2 separate regions of the Homo sapiens genome follow, and region 1 is linked to region 2. The links come from fine-mapping of genetic effects on gene expression. A gene starts in region 2. The other region holds a variant in brackets. All regions are shown on one strand. Distances are between the middles of the regions.

Region 1 (9,291 bases), 20 kb before region 2:
TCTGTTGTCATCCTATCATTGACCTGACTGAGATACCAGATATCGCCAAACTCTCGGGCTGCAGTTATGGCGGCACTTCTCTCATTTGTGGTTAGTGTCCGATCTAGCGGTAACATTATATCTCTCCATGTCAGAACAAAGGATTGTCTTAACCCTTGTAAAACATCAATATAGCCATCAGGGTTATCTGAGAATTTACCTAGGTCTATTTTTTTTTTTTAAGACGGAGTCGCACTCTGTTGCCCAGGCTGGAGTGCAGTGGCATGATCTCGGCTCACTGCAACCTCTGCCTCCTGGGTTCACGCCATTCTCCTGACTCAGCCTCCCGAGTAGCTGGGACTACAGGTGCCCGCCACCACGCCTGGCTATTTTTTTTTTTTTTGTATTTTTAGTAGAGATGGGGTTTCATCGTGTTAGCCAGGATGGTCTCAGTCTCCTGACCTCGTGATCTGCCTGCCTCAGCCTCCCAAAGTGCTGGGATTACAGGCGTGAGCCACCGCGCCCAGCCTTACCTAGGTCTATTTTAATTTGCTTCAAGTCTGACAGGGAAAAAGGTACATACACTCTGACTGGGCCGAATTCTCCAGAATACATCTTAGGGGCATTTTTGCCTTGGGGGGAATGTTTCCCATCTGAAAAAAAAAATAGAGATGCCAGCACCCCTAGTGATTTTCCCATAAGCATTAGTCCTAGAGGGTGCTCTATGGTCCTAATGCTTATTCCTTTCCAGGGTGCATAACCACCCATGGACTTCTGCTTATCGGATTAGTTATGCTCACCGATGTAGCAGTCCTGCACCCCTTTTCCCGAGCACAAAGAAAGGGGTCCGAGCTGCTGGATTCTAGTGGTCCTTTACCAGCGTGCCCAACATTGCCTTCATGCTCAGAGGTGAGTTCTAGAGCTGGGCTGAGTTCTTGAGTATTTCCTAACAACCCAGCTGCCCCATCAAGATGCATCCCCATAAACAACAGTTCTTATGCAAATTCGCTTCAGAGAGGGTGTAGGTAACCTTTTGAGTCAGGATTGAGATAGAGTCTTTTTGATTCTGTAAGTACTTTAAGGCTTGGCTGAGTGCAAACAGCTCCCACGTTTGAGCAGACCAATTATTAGGCAATTCTTCTAACTCTGCTTCCACAAGAGTCTCCCTATCAATTACTGAATACCCATTGTGTTTTTTCCTCAATCACCTGGGAGGAGCCATCTATCATTCTTTTCTGAAGGGAGTTCCTTCTAGGTCTGGTCGGACCTTTGTATGGTAATTAAGATTTAAATTCCCTGTTAGGAAATCTGCTGGGTTAAGGGAATTTTCAGTGGTTAGTGTTAAATTACCTTTTTCTAACAGAATAGCCCCATACTTTAAGATTTTTGAGTTAGTAAGCTACCTTTTTGCTTTTTTGACTTAGAATAATTCTGAACTGGTGAGGTGTGCTCACAATGAGGATTCCTCAAAAGGCTACTTTTCTAGGCTGGGCACAGTGGCTCACGCCCGTAATCTCAACACTTTGGAAGGCCGAGGTGGGTGGATCATGAGGTCAGGAGATCAAGACCATCCTGCCTAACACGGTGAAACCCCATCTCTACTAAAAATACAAAAAAAAAAAAAAAATTAGCTGGGCATGGTGGCGGGCGCCTGTAGTCCCAGCTACTCAGGAGGCTGAGGCAGGAGAATGGCGTGAACCCGGGAGGTGGAGCTGGCAGTGAGCCGAGATCACGCCACTGCACTCCAGCCTGGGCGACAGTGAGAATCCGTCTCAAAAAAAAAAAAAGTTACTTTTCACTTTCTTCTCTTAGCAAAGCAGTTGCTGCTACAGACTGAATGCATTTGGGCCATCCATTGGTTCCTGGATCTCAGTGCTTTCAGGCTACGCCCTTGTTTACACTGACAACAAGGCAGTATTGGAGTGTTATAGGGTCACAGAGAAGACCTTCAATTATCAATTATAGGTTTTAAATTTACCCTGGCTTTTAAAGGAATAGGGCACACTGTTTTTTCTTTACTACATCTATCTCTCTTTTTCTCTCTCTCCCTCTCTTTTTTCTATCTGTCTCTCTCTGTCTCTTCTCTCCTTGACTTACTCAATTCGCTTTCATCCTGATCTATTATGTTGTCGTAGACCCAGTTCCAGTTGTTAACGTACTGGGTCATCAGTTCTAAGGCCCTGGCCAAGGAGCCAAGGCTTGGAGATTGCATTGCAGAGGGATAAGCTGGGTAGAAATTGGGGGAGGAGAGCATCTTACACAATGGGAGAGCAATCCTCCTAGCCATTTACAAACTTGGGGCCCTGGCAAGGGTGTTGGGGAATGGGTCCCACCTAACTGCCCATGTCGAGAGCTGTATGCCTAAATTGGGAGGTACATCAGGGACAAGACTCCCTGGGTTCATATTCTAGATGCCTAAGGACACAGCATAGAGCTTCCTTAGATCCCTTTGGAGATACAACCTGCTCTAATACTTGGGAGAGGAAGTGAAAGTCTGAAGCATTAGACCTAGGAGGCAGGGATCAGAGGAAGTAGATTCAGAGGTAAGGAGAATTTTGGGGCTACACTTTCAAGAAAGTCATGGTCGGGACCCAGGAGGTATGGGTCAGAAGGAAAGGTAGGGGCGCACGCATGGGTGACTGTTGAGCAGAGACTTCTGGCTGCACCATGATCTCAACTGGCTAACCCCGGGAGTTCGGGAAGACAGCTTTCTGTCTCTAGTCAGCCCTCAGCTTCCCCAGGAAAATTGAAAGCGGAAGCTGGTTCCAGGCAGACCAACACTTCTAACCCAGAAGGGTTGGGGTTGTTAGAAAGCCCTTTCCAAGACAGCCTTATACCTGAGTCTTAAGTGAGGCGGCCACGCTAATCGTTTTTAACTGGCCGACAGATGCCCAGTATTTTCCTCCAATTCTAAGGAAGGATAGGACAGAATAGCAAGTGAAAGTGGTCCAATATTACTGCTTTGGAGGTCCCTTCATGGTTGCCAATATCTTACCAGGGGGTCCTTGTTCTTAGAGCTCCCAAGATGGTGGCAGGCTGCTTCCGAGATGGTGGCAGGCTGCTTCCAAGATGGCGGCAAGCCTCTTGTTCTCTGACCTGGGATTCTTGGCCTCATGCATTCCAAGGAATGGAATCTTGGGCCATGCAGTGAGTGTTATAGCTCTCTTCAGCTCGATTAGGATGAACCTGGGCACTTAGCCGTGGAGGAACAATAGCAAGCCTTTAGCCCAATCGGGAGCGGCAGTGGGCACCTTGCTGGATCAGGAGCACAGCGGACACTCTGCCGGATCTGGAGGGGTGGAAGTCAGCAGCAGGTCTGTGACAGTGGCAAACAGCAGTGGTGGACAGCAAGTGAAAGCTCAGCTCAAGCTGTAACAAACATGGACCAGAACATTGTGCAGTTGCAAGATTTAATAGAGTGAAAACAGAGCTCCCATAAAATGGAAGGGGACCCAAAGGGGGTTACTGTTGCCAGCTTGAATGCCTGGGTTTATATCCCGATCATTGTCCCTCCTCCTGTGCTCTCAGGTGATAGATTATTGGCTATTACTTTACCTCCTGTTTTTGCCTACTTAGCATTTTACTGAGCTCTCTTTACTACCTGATTGGTTGGGTGTGAGCTAAGTTGCAAGCCCCATGTTTAAAGGTGGATGCGGTCACCTTCCCAGTTAGGCTTAGGGATTCTTAGTCGGCCTAGGAAATCCAGCTAGTCCTGCCTCTCTCTCACAATGGCCTACTCCTTATTTATCAAATCCCCGCTGTGCACACCCCAACCCGTCGCCAGCAAGGCACTGTGCTGGGCTTCTGGGAAACAGACAAGGGCAATTGGATAATACATACATTAGCATTTGGCAATCTCTAAATCCTTGAGCATCCATTATCTTATTTTGATAATGTACATGAGGAGACAGTGAG[G/A]CACATTTCATCGTACTCCCTCTCTTAAGGAGGAAGAAACCAAAGCTCAGAGAGGAAAAGTCACTTGTTCTCAGCCACACCTTTGGTTGAGGGGCAGACTTTTTTATTCCAAATCCTGTTTCTTTTCACTACACCCTATTTTTCCTACCATGAAGGAGCCTACAGTCCATGCAAATAATTATTATAAAAGGTAAAAGGATAAGTGCCTGAACACATAGAGATGAGATCTGTGCATGAATATGTAGTGCTGTGTGTGTGTGATAACATCAGGTTGACAGGTGCAAAAACATTATTTGTGCCTCAGACTGTGCTTTACATATATTATGTCTTTTAACTCGGCCTTCACAACAGACTTATAAGGCAGACATTATTTCAGTTTTACAGGTGAAGTGATTGAGGTTCAAAAAGGTCAACTATTTAATGACAATCACAGCAGGAAAGTGAATGCATTCCAAGAAAGGTGGGTGCAAACCCAGCATGGTGGGGAGGAGCCTGTACGGAAGAGAGAAATCAGAAAAGGCACCATGGAGAAGGTGGCATTTAGGTTGGGCTTTGAAGGATGGATGAGGTCCAGACAGGTAGAGATGCAGCCCAGGGAAGCAGAGAGGCAGAGCAAGGAACTGACCACAGGTACTGACTTTGGGGAAGATTTCTTTAAATCTCTTAGGCTAGAGCCCTGCAGCTTTGTGAGAAAGTGAAGCCTGTCGTCTGTTGGCAGCCTTTTTCTTGGAAACAACAGGCTGGCCCTATGCTGAACCCCCCAAAACCAAATGCCACTTTGTGCTTGGATGTCTGAGGTTGTTAGGGGAGCTGCCAAACAGAACACAAGTACCAGCAGCAATTGAGAAGCCCAAGATCAAGACTAGGACAGGAGTCATCAGCTGCCTGAAAACCCTTGGGCGTCAGGCCAGTGCAGCCACTGCTAACTCTGGGGCAATCTTGGCAACTTGTTACACTCCCAGCTTCTGTTCCTCCTTCTGTAAAACGGGTATAATAGCCAGGTGCAGCAGCCATTGCCTGTAATCCCAGCTACTTGGGAGGCGGAGGCAGGAGGATCGCCTGAGCCTAGGAGTTTGAGGCCAATCTAGGCAACATAGTGAGAGCACCCCCCTATTCTAAATAAATAAATTTTTAAACATTGAAAAAGTGAGCATAATAATATGAAGTAGCACATCAAGGATCCACAGAGAGACAGGAGAGAAAGAGCCAATAGCACCACGCAGCAGGAATCAACCTTTTTAAGGGCAGCTGAGTCCCTTTGGCAGGTGGGTTGAAAAAAAAAAAAGGCAGGCCAGGCATGGTGGCTCGTGTCTGTAATCCCAGCACTTTGAGAGGACAAGGCGAGTGATCACCTGAGGCCAGGAGTTCAAGATCAGCCTGGCCAACGTGGTGAAACTCCATCTCTACTTTAAAAAATACAAAAATTAGCTAGGTGTGGTGGCATGTGCCTGTAGTCTCAGCTACTCTACTCGGGAGGCTGAGGCAGAAGAATTGCTTGAACCCAGGAGGTGGATGCTGCAGCGAGCCAAGATCACACCACCACACTCCATCCAGCCTGGGCAACAGAGCTAGACTCCATCTCAAGTTAAAAAAAAAAAAAAAAGCAGTCTCAGGCCTTGAGGATGTGAGCCCCCAAAGTATATTTTAATATTGATCTCCATTTATATAGTTTACTTACTTACATAAATTTGCTTTTTTCGAGACAGAGTCTCTGTCTCCCAGGCTGGAATGCAGTGGCATGATCTCAGCTCACTGCAGCCTCCACCTCCTGGGTTCAAGCGATTCTCCTGCTTCAGCCTCCAAGTAGCTGGGATTACAGGTGCGCGCCACCATGCCCAGCTAATTTTTGTATTTTTAGTAGATACGGGGTTTTGCCATGTTGACCAGGCTTCTCTTGAACTCCTGGCCTCAGGTGATTCGCCCACCTCAGCCTTCCAAAGTGCTGGGATTACAGACATAAGCCACCACGCTTGGCTATAAATTCGCCTTAAATACTTCCACATGTAGAGACATACATGTGGAATGTAAGTCACCATGTTCCTGTAAGTCAGCCTTTCCCAAGGTAACCCTCAAATTGAAGGCAACTGCAATTAGAAATCCCAAGATTTTTGTTTCATTTTTGTTTTTAGAACTAAGTAAATATTCTCTTTTTTTGTTTGTTTGAGACAGGGTCTTGCTCTGTTGCCTAGCTGGAATGCAGTGGTACGATCACAGCTCACTGGAGTCTCCACCTCCCAGTGCTCAAGTGATCCTCTCCACCTTAGCCTCCCTAGTAGCTGGGACCACAGGCATGGACCACTGTACTCGGCTATTTTTTAATTTTTTTTGGAGACGGGGTCTCCCTATGTTGCCCAGGCTGGTCTTGAACTCCTGGGCTCAAGAGATCCTTTCACGACCACCTAGCAAAAGTGCTGGGATTATAGGCAGGCCACTGCGCCTGGCCTAATATTATCTTAAAATGCATATAGAGGGGCTGGATGCAGTGGCTCATGCCTGTAATCCCAGCACTTTGGGAGGCTGAGGTGGGAAGATCACGAGATCAAGAGATGGAGATCATCCTGGCCAACATGGTGAAACCCTGTCTCTACTAAAAATACAAAAATTAGCTGGGCATGGTGGCACGCGCCTGTAGTCCCAGCTACTCGGGAGGCTGAGGCAGGAGAATCATTTGAACCCAGGAGGCAGAGGTTGCAGTGAGCCGAGATTGCGCCACTGCACTCCAGCCTGGGCAACAGAGTGAGACTCCATCTCAAAAAAAAAAAAAAAAAAAAAGCATACAGAGGGGGCCAGGTGCGGTGGCTCATGCCCGTAATCCCAGCACTTTGGAAGTCCGAGGCGGGTGGCACCAGGTCAGGAGTCCAAGACCAGCCTGGCCAAGATGGTGAAACCCCATCTCTATTAAAAACACAAAAATTACCTGGGCGTGGTGGCAGGCACCTGTAATCCCAGCTACTCGGGAGGCTGAGGCAGAGAATTGCTTGAGCCAGTGAGGCGGAGGTTGCAGTGAGCCAAGATCGTGCCACTGCACTCCAGCCTGGGCAACAGAGACTCTGTCTCACAAAAAAAAAAAAAAAAAAAAAAAGCATATCGAGGGATATGACAATTGTACTTTTTAAATAAATATTTTTAACAAAAAAAAAATGCACATAGAGGGAAAAGTCAAGTTCATATAGCAAGATAAATGTGCAAGAATTGCTATGAAGCTGGGCATAGTGACTCATGCCTGTAATTCCAGCACTATGGAAGTCCAAGGCTGGAGGATTGCTTGAGCCCAGGAGTTCAAGACCAGACTGGGCAACATAGGAATGGATACTCTGTCTCTACAAAAAATAATAAAATTTGTCAGGCATAGTGGCCCACACTTATGGTCCCAGCTACTCAGGAAGCTGAGGGAGAAGGATCACTTGAGCCCAGGAGGGTGAGGCTGCTGTGAGTCGTGATTGCACCACTGTACTCCAGCATGAGACCCTCCCCCTATCAAAATAAAAATAAAAAATAAAAATTAAAAAAAGGCCAGGCGCAGTGGCTCATGCCTGTAATCCCAGCACTTTGGGAGGCTAAGGTAGGTGGATCACTTGAGGTCTGAGGTCAGGAGTTGGAGACCAGTCTGGCCAACATGGCAAAACCCCGTCTCTACTTAAAAAAAAAAAAAAAAATAGCCAAGTGTGGTGGCACCCACCTGTAGTCCCAGTTATTCGGGAGGGTGAGGCAGGAGAATCGCTTGAACCCAGGAGGTGGAGATTGCAGTGAGCCAAGATCGTGCCACTGCCCTCCAGCCTGAGTGACAGAGCAAGATTCTGTCTCAAGAAAAAAAAGTCAAATCCATCAACAAATGAGTGGTTGAAAAACTGAGAATGTATTTATACAATGGAACATTACTGTGGAAAATTATGCAGCCATTAAAGAGAATGACTAGGAACTGTATGTATTGATCTGGAAAAAAATGTTTATTGCATATGGTCAAGTAAAAACATGCAAGTCATTGAGTATGGTACATGGCCTGATCTCATTTTTTAGAAACAGAATTTCATTTTGACATTATTTCAGATTTACAGAAAAGTTGTAAGAATAGAAAGAATTCCTGGAGCTGGGTGCGGTAGCTTACACCTGTAATCCCAGCACTTTGGGAAGCCAAAGCAGGAGAATCACTTGAGGCTAGGAGTTTGAGATCAACCTGGGCAACATGGCAAGACCCCATCTCTATTATAAAAATAAAATAAAATAAAAATAATTTCTGTGTACTTTTTTTTTCTTTTTTTGGAGACGGTGTCTTGCTCTGTCGCCAAGGCTGGAGTGCAATGGCGCAATCTCGGCTCACCGTAACCTCCGCCTTCCAGGTTCAAGCAATTCTCCTGCCTCAGCCTCCTGAGTAGCTGGAATTACAGGCGGGCGCTCCATGCCCGGCTAATTTTGTATTTTTAGTAGAGACGAGGTTTCTCCATGTTGGTCAGGCTGGTCTCAAACTCTCGACCTCAGGTGATCCACCGGTCTCGGCTTCCCAAGGTACCAGGATTACAGATGTGAGCCACTGCGGCTGGCCCTCCTGTGTACTCTTTACCCAGATCTCCCATTTGCCATTTCACTACAGTTGCTTTATCCTTCTGTCTCTCTGTCTACACACACACACAGACACACACACATACACACACACACACACAATTTCTAAACTGTTTGAGTATGTTGCAGATATGATGCCCTTTTATCACTAAATATATCAATTTTTTTTCTAAGTACAAGGAAATATATAACCACAGGGCAATTGTAAAAATCAACAAATTCACACTGATCAATACTACTCTCTAATCTATAGACTTTATTCTGATTCTATTAATTGTCCAGCATGATTTTTTTTTTGTAATAATAGCCAGATTTAATGGCTTATGCCTGTAGTCCCAGCTACTCGAGAGGCTGAGGCAGAGAATGGCTTGAGTCCAGGAGTTTAAGTTCAGCCTGGGCAGCATAGCAACTCTTCTTCTCTTAAAAGAGAAAATAAAAATTATATATATAATATTAACAGAGATATGATATATTAATATATAACATATAATAATATATATAATATTCCTAGGCTCAATATATATGAGCCTAGGAAAATGTATAGATGAATATCCATACTTTTTAACCTAGTTAACCTTAAAAATTTGCTAAAATCAGCCTTATAACTTTTGTAATAAATTATAATATAGAAAAGTTTATTACAAATAAATAAGCAATGAATGAATGAATAAATAAAATCATCATATGTTGAGATGGAACTGAGATCAAATCTGGTTCTACCAACTTTGGACACATTACCTAATCTCTCCAAGCCTGGATTCCTCAATCATAAATCTCCACCTATAGAAGAAACTATTTTGTTTGTTTATTTATTTTTTTACAGACGGAGTCTTGCTCTGT
Region 2 (8,000 bases):
GCAACCACCATTCCACTTTGTCTCTAAGAATTTGACTACTCTAGGTGTCGCATATGAATGGAATCATACAGTATTTATTCTTTTGTGTTTGGCTTATTTCACTTAGCACAATGTGTTCAAAGTTCATGTGGACTGTAGCATGTGTGGGAATTTCCTTCCTTTTTTGAAAGCTGAATAGTATTCCATTGTATGGATCTACTGCATTTGTTTATCCATTCAATCATTGATGAATATTTGGGTTGTGTCTGTCTTTTGGCTATTGGGAACAATTCTGTTGTGAACATTGGTACACAAATGTTTGTTGGAGTCCCGACTTTCAATTATTTTGGGTATATACCCAGAAGTAGAATTGCTGGATCATATAACTCATTTTTAATTTTTTGAGGAAGCACCATACCATCCACTGTGGTGGCCCCATTTTACATTCCCACCACCCAATGCACACGTGTCCAGTCTCTCCACAACCCCACCAATACTTGTTATTTTCTGTTTTTTTGCGGGTGTTCTTTTTTTTTTTTTGAGACAGGGTCTTGCTCTGTCACCCAGGCAGGAGTGCAGTGGTGTGATCTCAGCTCACCGCAGCCTCAAACTCTTGGGGTCAATATATACATACATACATACATATATATATTTATTTGGTGAAATATCTATTTAAGTCCAAAGAGAATCATTTGAACTATTGTAACGATTTCTGATTTATCTTCTTCTGCTACTTGCCTCTAAATGACATACTTATTTTGCCAGTTTTAGATTTTCTGTTTGATAAATGGGTACTTGCACCCCATCTCTCCTCCCTAAGTGCTGGTACTATAGTTTTATTATTATTTTTGTACATAATGACATACCCTTTTTTTTTATTTTATACTCTCCCCCACCCCTTCCCTCTCAACTACTATCAGATGTAACTTCCAAAGTTAGTGATACTTACATTTACATTCTATTCTGTAACTGTGACTAGGTCTTCTGTAGGTTGATGTTATGAAAGAAAAAAAATCAATAAATGGTGTTTACATTTTGAGCCTGCTTTTGAAGCACAGAAGCAAGACATGGGCAAAGGGGCGGGAATAAGGGCTTTCTCATGGTAGCCAATGGCATGAGCCAAATTACAGGGACCATAAATCATGCAAGTCACATGCAGCATAAAGGAGATGTGATGGCTCAGGCAGAAGGCCCCTTGGGGAGCAACGGGGAATTTAATTGGTTAAAGGGAAGGGAAGGGAAGCTGGAGAGCCTGGATGGCCCACTGCCCTGCTCCCCACTTCCTTATACTAGCCAAAGAATGCGGGTCAACGTGATTCCCCCACCATGACTCACGGACTTCCACCAGCCGTCTTGACTTTCTCCCAGCCCTCCTCCCCATCCACAGAACCAGTGCCTACCAGGGCTTTGCACAAATAAAACAATTCTCCCTCCTAAAAAAGGTTTGCAATTCCTACACAGAGGAAGGTCTTAGAGTGAAGACACAAGAGGAAGGAGAGGATGGAAAAAGAAACAATCACTGAAAACTGGCCGACTACCAGTTCTGTGCCACCTACTCAATTCTTACCCAGCCCTCTGCGTGAAGTTGGTATTATTATCCCCATTTGACAGATAACGAGGCTGGAGAGGCCCCGTGACTTGCCCAAAGCCACAAAGAGACTACTGGCAGAGCTTTGGCCTATGTTTAAGAAGCTGAACCTCTTTGGGATTCAGTTTCTTCATCCATAAAAACAAAGACACATTCCAAGCCATGCCTGTTCCTTGCAGGGTGTTTGTGAGGGTCAGAGAAAATGTCCTTGAAGAGCCTGGCATGTACAAGATACCCTGAAACTGATGGCTATGATGCCACGGCCTGTGCACCTAGGAAGAGTCAGGAAAGCCCAGTGTCTTGAAAAGCCGAGGCTGGAGCAAAGTTCAAGGAGGAACTCACTTCTCTCCCACTCTAGGACTGACCCTCAAACTAGCCAGAAGAGTGGAAGGACCTACAAGATCAGTACCCACCCCACACTTCATAGGCCAAGAGAGGGACAGTGGTTTACCCAGGGTCACCCAGCATGCTAGAGGCTAAGCCTGCCAGCCACGGCTGGGAACCCAGACTTGTGAATGCCCCAGCCCTCCACATTCCCTGGTCCGCTATCAAAGACAGTTAGTCTAATTAGGAAAGCACACCCTTGCAGGCCCAGCCTCCGGTGATCTCTTTGTTCCTCTGTCTCTTCCTGCCCCAACCCCACAGAAACTGAAGTGTGGGGACCCTCCCTAGGAACCGGGGTTCCAGGGAGGATTTGAGGTCACGCTCAAGATCATAAAGAGGCCCAGCATGGACTCCTTCTCATGACCCAAGTGGAGCCAGAGTTCCCAGATAAGGGCAAAGGTCACCTCAGGCCAGGCTCCACTCTCAGCCACCCCTTCTGCCTGGCAGGGTTTACTTCATCTCCTCCAGTCAGGAGAGGGGAGGTCACACTGCCAGGGCCTTTGCCCCATTCTTCTCCAGCTCCTTCTCTAGAGGAAGAGTCATGGCTAGGCCGAGGCAGTGTGGACCTGGAACAGGTATAAACTGTGCTACTCTTTGGTGCCCAGTGCCACTTTTCCTAGCCAGGACCAGAGCTATCACCTTCTCTGTCCCGCAGCTCTGCCCAGGTCTTAGTACCCCACTCACCCCTGGGCCTCAGGAACCCTAAGGAGGGGCATAGGGTTGCTTTCCATTCACACCTGGGGCAGCACAGGGAACTGTGCCACAGGCCCCAAGACAGGCAGATGGAGGATGAAATACACAGGTCCCAGTCCCTGAGGCCACCTTACGTGTCCGGCCCCCAACCCTGTGCAGAAGGTCAAGGCAGAGGCGCCGAGGAGGGATGGGAGGATGCCTCCTGTGAGATGGGGTACAACTGGTGTTCCTTCTGAAGCTGACATCTGGCCTCAGCTGGGACTCTGGCGCCAGCGGGCCCGCAGGGGGCTCACCCGCGACACCCTTTGTTCTGGCTGCCTCCCCAACCCCGCGGGGCCCTCTGCTCCAGCTGGCATGCCTCAAGGACGCTTCGCGCCTGCTCCTTTGGCCCCCGGCTCGCAAGTAGCGGGGCCAGCACGTGACCCGAGGGGGCAGGGGATGGATGGATCTTGACCTTGCCATCTGGCCCCTCACGGATGTGCTGCTGGCTCTCCCTCTAGGAAATCAACAAATTTTTGCGCTTCTAACATCCAGGCCCCTGAGGATGGTCGCGAGGAAGATCTGTTTCGGACTGCAGCTGGGGCCTTCGGATCCAGAGGAAACCAGGGCTATTCTTCGAGGGTGGGAGGGGGAGGGCCGCGGGGTCGGAGGGGAAGGTGGCCCCGCGCGAAGTCGCCGCCGCCGCGCCCCGCCCCGCCCCGCCGGCGGAGACCGAATCCGCCGCACCCCATAGGCAGAGGCCACCCTCCCCGCCTCCCCGCCCGCTGCGCGCCCGCCCCGCCCCGGCTCACTTTAAAAGTTTACTCGGGCCGGGACGCAGGGCAAAGCGAGCCATGGCTGTCTACGTCGGGATGCTGCGCCTGGGGAGGCTGTGCGCCGGGAGCTCGGGGGTGCTGGGGGCCCGGGCCGCCCTCTCTCGGAGTTGGCAGGAAGCCAGGTTGCAGGGTGTCCGCTTCCTCAGGTACTGGCCCCCCGCGGGAAGAGAGGGGGCGGGGCAGTTCCCCGGGAGAGGAACTTGGAGGTCCCGGCGAGCTTCGGAAGCCCCACCTCTGGACGAGTGCACTGGGGGGAAGGTACCCGCCCCTCCCCCGCCCCCCGCCAGCACCTAGGCAATAGGAAAAGCTGGCTTGGCCTGGTGGACTTGGGTGGGGAGGGGGCTTTGGTTGGTGGCTGCAGTGACTTCGAGTTCTGGTCCAAGACTCTCGATTCCTTCTCCTTTATGGGCACAGAGGGCAAGGAGTGTGGGCTTTAAGGAGAATATTCCGATGGGGAGGGGCAAGGGCCAAGGCCTGGGCTGTACCCCCAGGACACTGCCTCTGAGTTGGAACCCCTTCATGGGCAAACTTGGGGATCAGCCCCAGTCTCCCCGACCCAGGCCACTAAACTTAGCAGTCTCCTGTCTCCTCATCAGCTGCTCACTAACATGGCTTTAATTCTTTGCTGCCTACTCCTGGGCCTATTTCCTTCTGTCCTCAGTGCAAGGGGTGGGATGGAAGCTGGCAGGCAGAGGATTTCAGTTCCCAGTAGCTTCACTGCCTCTGCAGCAGCACAGTAAGTAAAGCTGCCTTCCCGGTGTGACCAGTCCTTGGGAGGACCCCGTGAGATGGCAAATGTGAAAGTGCTTGAGACACAGAGAGCAGGCTGCCACTCATGTTATCAGGGCTGTTAGCTTCAGCAGCACCACTGGGGAGCCCTGTGCACTACTGAGCCTGTCCTACCACTCAACTCGGCCAGATACTAAGTCTATGGTCAGGACAGCACTTTCAGCAACATCAGATGGGGTGTGGGCCTGGACATGGAAAAGGGAGAAGTCAGAACAAAGCTGTGTCTCAGAGAACTAGATTTGTTTTTGTTTTTAAAAAGGCTAAGTAGGAAGAGTTGGAGGGACATGCAGACTCCTTTTTGGCTAGAACTCCAAGATCACACTTTCTGAACTTGCTGATTTCTGAATGCTAGAAAGCATGCAATGCCTTAACATCACTCTGCCTAATTTGCTGAGAAAACTAAGTGGATCAAGGCTGGTCAGTAGATGGGATTGAGATGAGGACAGTGGGGTCCTCTTCCCAGTGACCCTGGGAAGTCACTCACTACTTCCCAGGGTCTCCCTAGACAAGTTCGGCCCTCCCCTGACCCCCTAGTCTCTTAAGCCTCTCCTCTGGACTCATGGCTGCCCCCTCAGGCTGGGAGGACTCTGAGGAAAGTTACTTCCCAAAGTGTACATATTTTATCACACTAAATCAGGCCACAGGGGAAGTCTCTCAGCCTACTCTGGCTCAGGAGGCTGCCCAATAGAAAACAAACAAACAAACCAATAAATAAGTAATAAATCAGGCCACATGGCAACATTTCTGACCTTTGACTTTTTTTTATCTATAAACAAAACAGGTCACTTACCTGCTACAGCCCTGGGACCTCTGAGAGCACCAAGCTTCAGAGAAATTCTTATTGCTGTGTCAGGAGGAGACTCATTTATCCAGACAGATGATTTTCTGAGTGTTTGGCCTACTTTCTTTCTGCCCCTTCCACTCCCTTGTGCCTGCACCCTTATTGTCTGACTGTGATGGTTTTACCTGATTTCTCTCCTACTTTCCCCTTCAGAAGCCTCAGGGCTCAGGCCAGGCAAGGTGGTTTATGCCTGTAATCTCAGCACTTTGGAAAGCAGAGGTGGTAGGATCACTTGAGCCCAGGAGTTCAAGGCTGCATTGAGCCGTCATCATGCCACTGCACTCTAGCCTGAGCAGCAGAGCAAAACCTAGACTCAAAAAATAAAAATAAAGGCTGGGTGGGTGGCTCATGCCTGTAATCCCAGCACTTTGGGAAGCCCAGGCAGGCAGATCACTTGAAGTCAGGAGACCGGTTTGGCCAACATGGTGAAACCCCGTTTCTACTAAAAATACAAAAATCAGCCGGGCGTGGTGGCATGTGCCTGTAATACCAGCTACTAGGGTGTCTGAGGCAGGAGAATTGCTCCAACCTGGGAGGCGGTGGTTGTAGTGAGCCAAGACTGCACCTCTGCACTCCAGCCTGGGTGACAGAGGGAGACTCCATGTCAAAAATAAATAAATAAAAATAAAGGCCAAGCATGGTGGCTTATGCCTGTAATCCCAGCACTTTGGGAGGCTGAGGTGGGCGGATCACTTGAGGTCAGGAGTTAGATCAGACTGGCCAACATGGAGAAACCCCATCTCTACTAAAAATATAAAATTAGCCTGGCGTGGTGGCACATGCCTGTAATCCCAGCTACTTGGGAGGCTGAGGCAGGAGAATTACTTGAACCTGGGAAGCGGAGGTTGCACTGAGCTGAGATTGCACCACTGCACTCCAGTCTGGGTGACAGAGAAAGACTTCATCTCAAAAAAATAAAAATAAAAATGAAAAAAGAAGCCTCAGGGCTGAAACCATCAGCAAACATTCCTGAGAACAGATTCTGCGTCATGCTAGCACATGCTGTGCATATAGAGGCCACAGAACTCAGTCCTCACCCTGCCAGGAACTTGCAGCCTCGTAGGAGGAGAAATAAATCAAGGTGAGCACTATTCGGTGTTGCAAGTGCCATGGTGAGGAATGCGCTTGGACTTTCGTCCTCTGTTTTCTCCGATCTGCTCACACACAGCCTGCTTTCCTGTTGCCCAACACCCAGGCCTATTACTTACCAGACCCTGGTTTTGCCTGAGAGAAAAGAGCAAGGGCTTTGAAGTTAGACTATCCTGGATGACAGCCCTGGGTCCTCTCCCTGTTGGTTGTATGACCTCGGGCATGTTATCTAACCTCTGAGCTAGTTAGTTCATTACTTACTACCTTCTTGCTGTGTTGTTGGGCTGATGAATAAAACAAGCTTGCTCTTGTTCTCAGCCTTTCCTTTGAGGCAGGGCTGATCCCTGGAAACCCTTGACTGGTGTCTGGGTGGGAATTCTGACTGATTTGAAAGTAGGAGAGGATCCCCTGATTGGTGGCCTCTTTCTGGAACCCAATTATTTCTCCTAGCTGATTGCCAAGATGGTGACTTCCACCCAGCTACATGTCCAGTCCTTGGGTCTGCTGGACGTCCTCCTCTCCGTTTGACGCAGGGCTGTTCAGAGTCTTTCTCTTTTTCTTTTTTTTTTATTTGAGGTGGAATTTCGCTCTTGTTGCCCCAGGCTGGAGTGCAATGGCATGATCTCAGGTCACTGTAACCTCCGCCTCCTGGGTTCAAGCAGTTCTCCTGCCTCAGCCTCCCAAGTAGCTGGGATTACCGGTGTGCGCCACCCGCCCAGCTAATTTTGTATTTTTAGTGGAGATGGGGTTTCACCATGTTGGTCAGACTAGTCTCAAACTCCTGAACTCAAGTAATCCACCTGCCTCAGCCTCCTAAAGTGCTGGGATTACAGGCGTGAGCCACCACGCCCGGCCCAGAGTCTTTCTCCCCAGAAGGAAAGAAAAAGCTGTCCTTTGCTCTCCAGAACTCCTCACGACCAACTCCTTCCCCCTATCTATGTGCCTCCTTCCCCAAAGAAGGTGGATGGCTTAGTCTGGGGCTTCAGTGAACCTCCAAGGAAGGAATTCAAGGAGAAACCTGGGCTGAGCAGGCTTCCCCCAGACCTGCCCTAAAGCTGGCCTGGGGCTGCCTATGAGGCAGCTGCATCCAGGGTGTTGAGAACACTCAGAGCTGGGAAGGCAGAGAGATCAGTGGCTAAAGCCTCTCAGAATTAGGTGTGGTGCTCAGAGCTGGGGATCCAGTGACTTGGTGCTGATGGTGGGGACAGAGGGGTAAGGGGGCTTTGTGGACCACCCTCCATGGGGATGGCTATGATCATATAAGACTGTGGACCTAAGGGAAAAATCTGAGGCCAAAGTAATATAAGTAGAGAGATTTATTTGGGCCATGTTTGCAGACTGCAACCGGGAGCATAGACTCAAGTTGCCCTGATTATATGATCTGATGAGCAGCAGTTACAAGTGGGTTTTTAAAAGAAAAGAAGGCTGGGTGCAGTGGCTCACACCTGTAATCCCGGCACTTTGGGAGGCCGAGGCAGGCAGATCACAAGGTCAGGAGTTCGAGACCAGCCTGGCCAATATGGTGAAACCCTGTCTCTACTAAAAATACAAAATTAGCTGGGCATGGTGGCGGGCGCCTGTAGTTTCAGCTACTTGGGAGGCTGAGGCAGGAGAATCGCTTAAACCCGGGAGGAGAAGGTTGCAGTGAGCCGAGATTGTGCCACTGCACTCCAACCTGGGCGACAGAGCGAGACTCTGTCTCTAAATAAATAAATAAATGAAAAGAAGAGACAGTTCCTAAGTGATTTACCAAGAATGTACATTAAAATGATATAAGCTATTGATTCATTATACTTTGTTCTTTGTATCACAAATTTTGTTA

What was found. PIP is the estimated chance that this variant, and not a neighbour inherited with it, causes the effect.
Region 1: its variant is fine-mapped to the expression of ACSF2 in whole blood (INTERVAL, PIP 0.92).

The regions. Positions count from the first base shown.
Region 1 is chr17:50,402,001-50,411,291 of GRCh38, forward strand. No RefSeq gene overlaps it. Among named protein-coding and RNA genes, the nearest start is that of LRRC59, 9.1 kb to the left of the region's middle. The variant G/A (reference allele first, on the strand shown) is at 3,895.
Region 2 is chr17:50,422,785-50,430,784 of GRCh38, forward strand. It overlaps ACSF2 (acyl-CoA synthetase family member 2), which reads left to right and starts at 3,434. Exons shown (of 16, transcript NM_025149.6): 1 at 3,434-3,605. The coding sequence starts at 3,478. RefSeq lists an enhancer at 2,966-3,510 and a silencer at 3,247-3,566.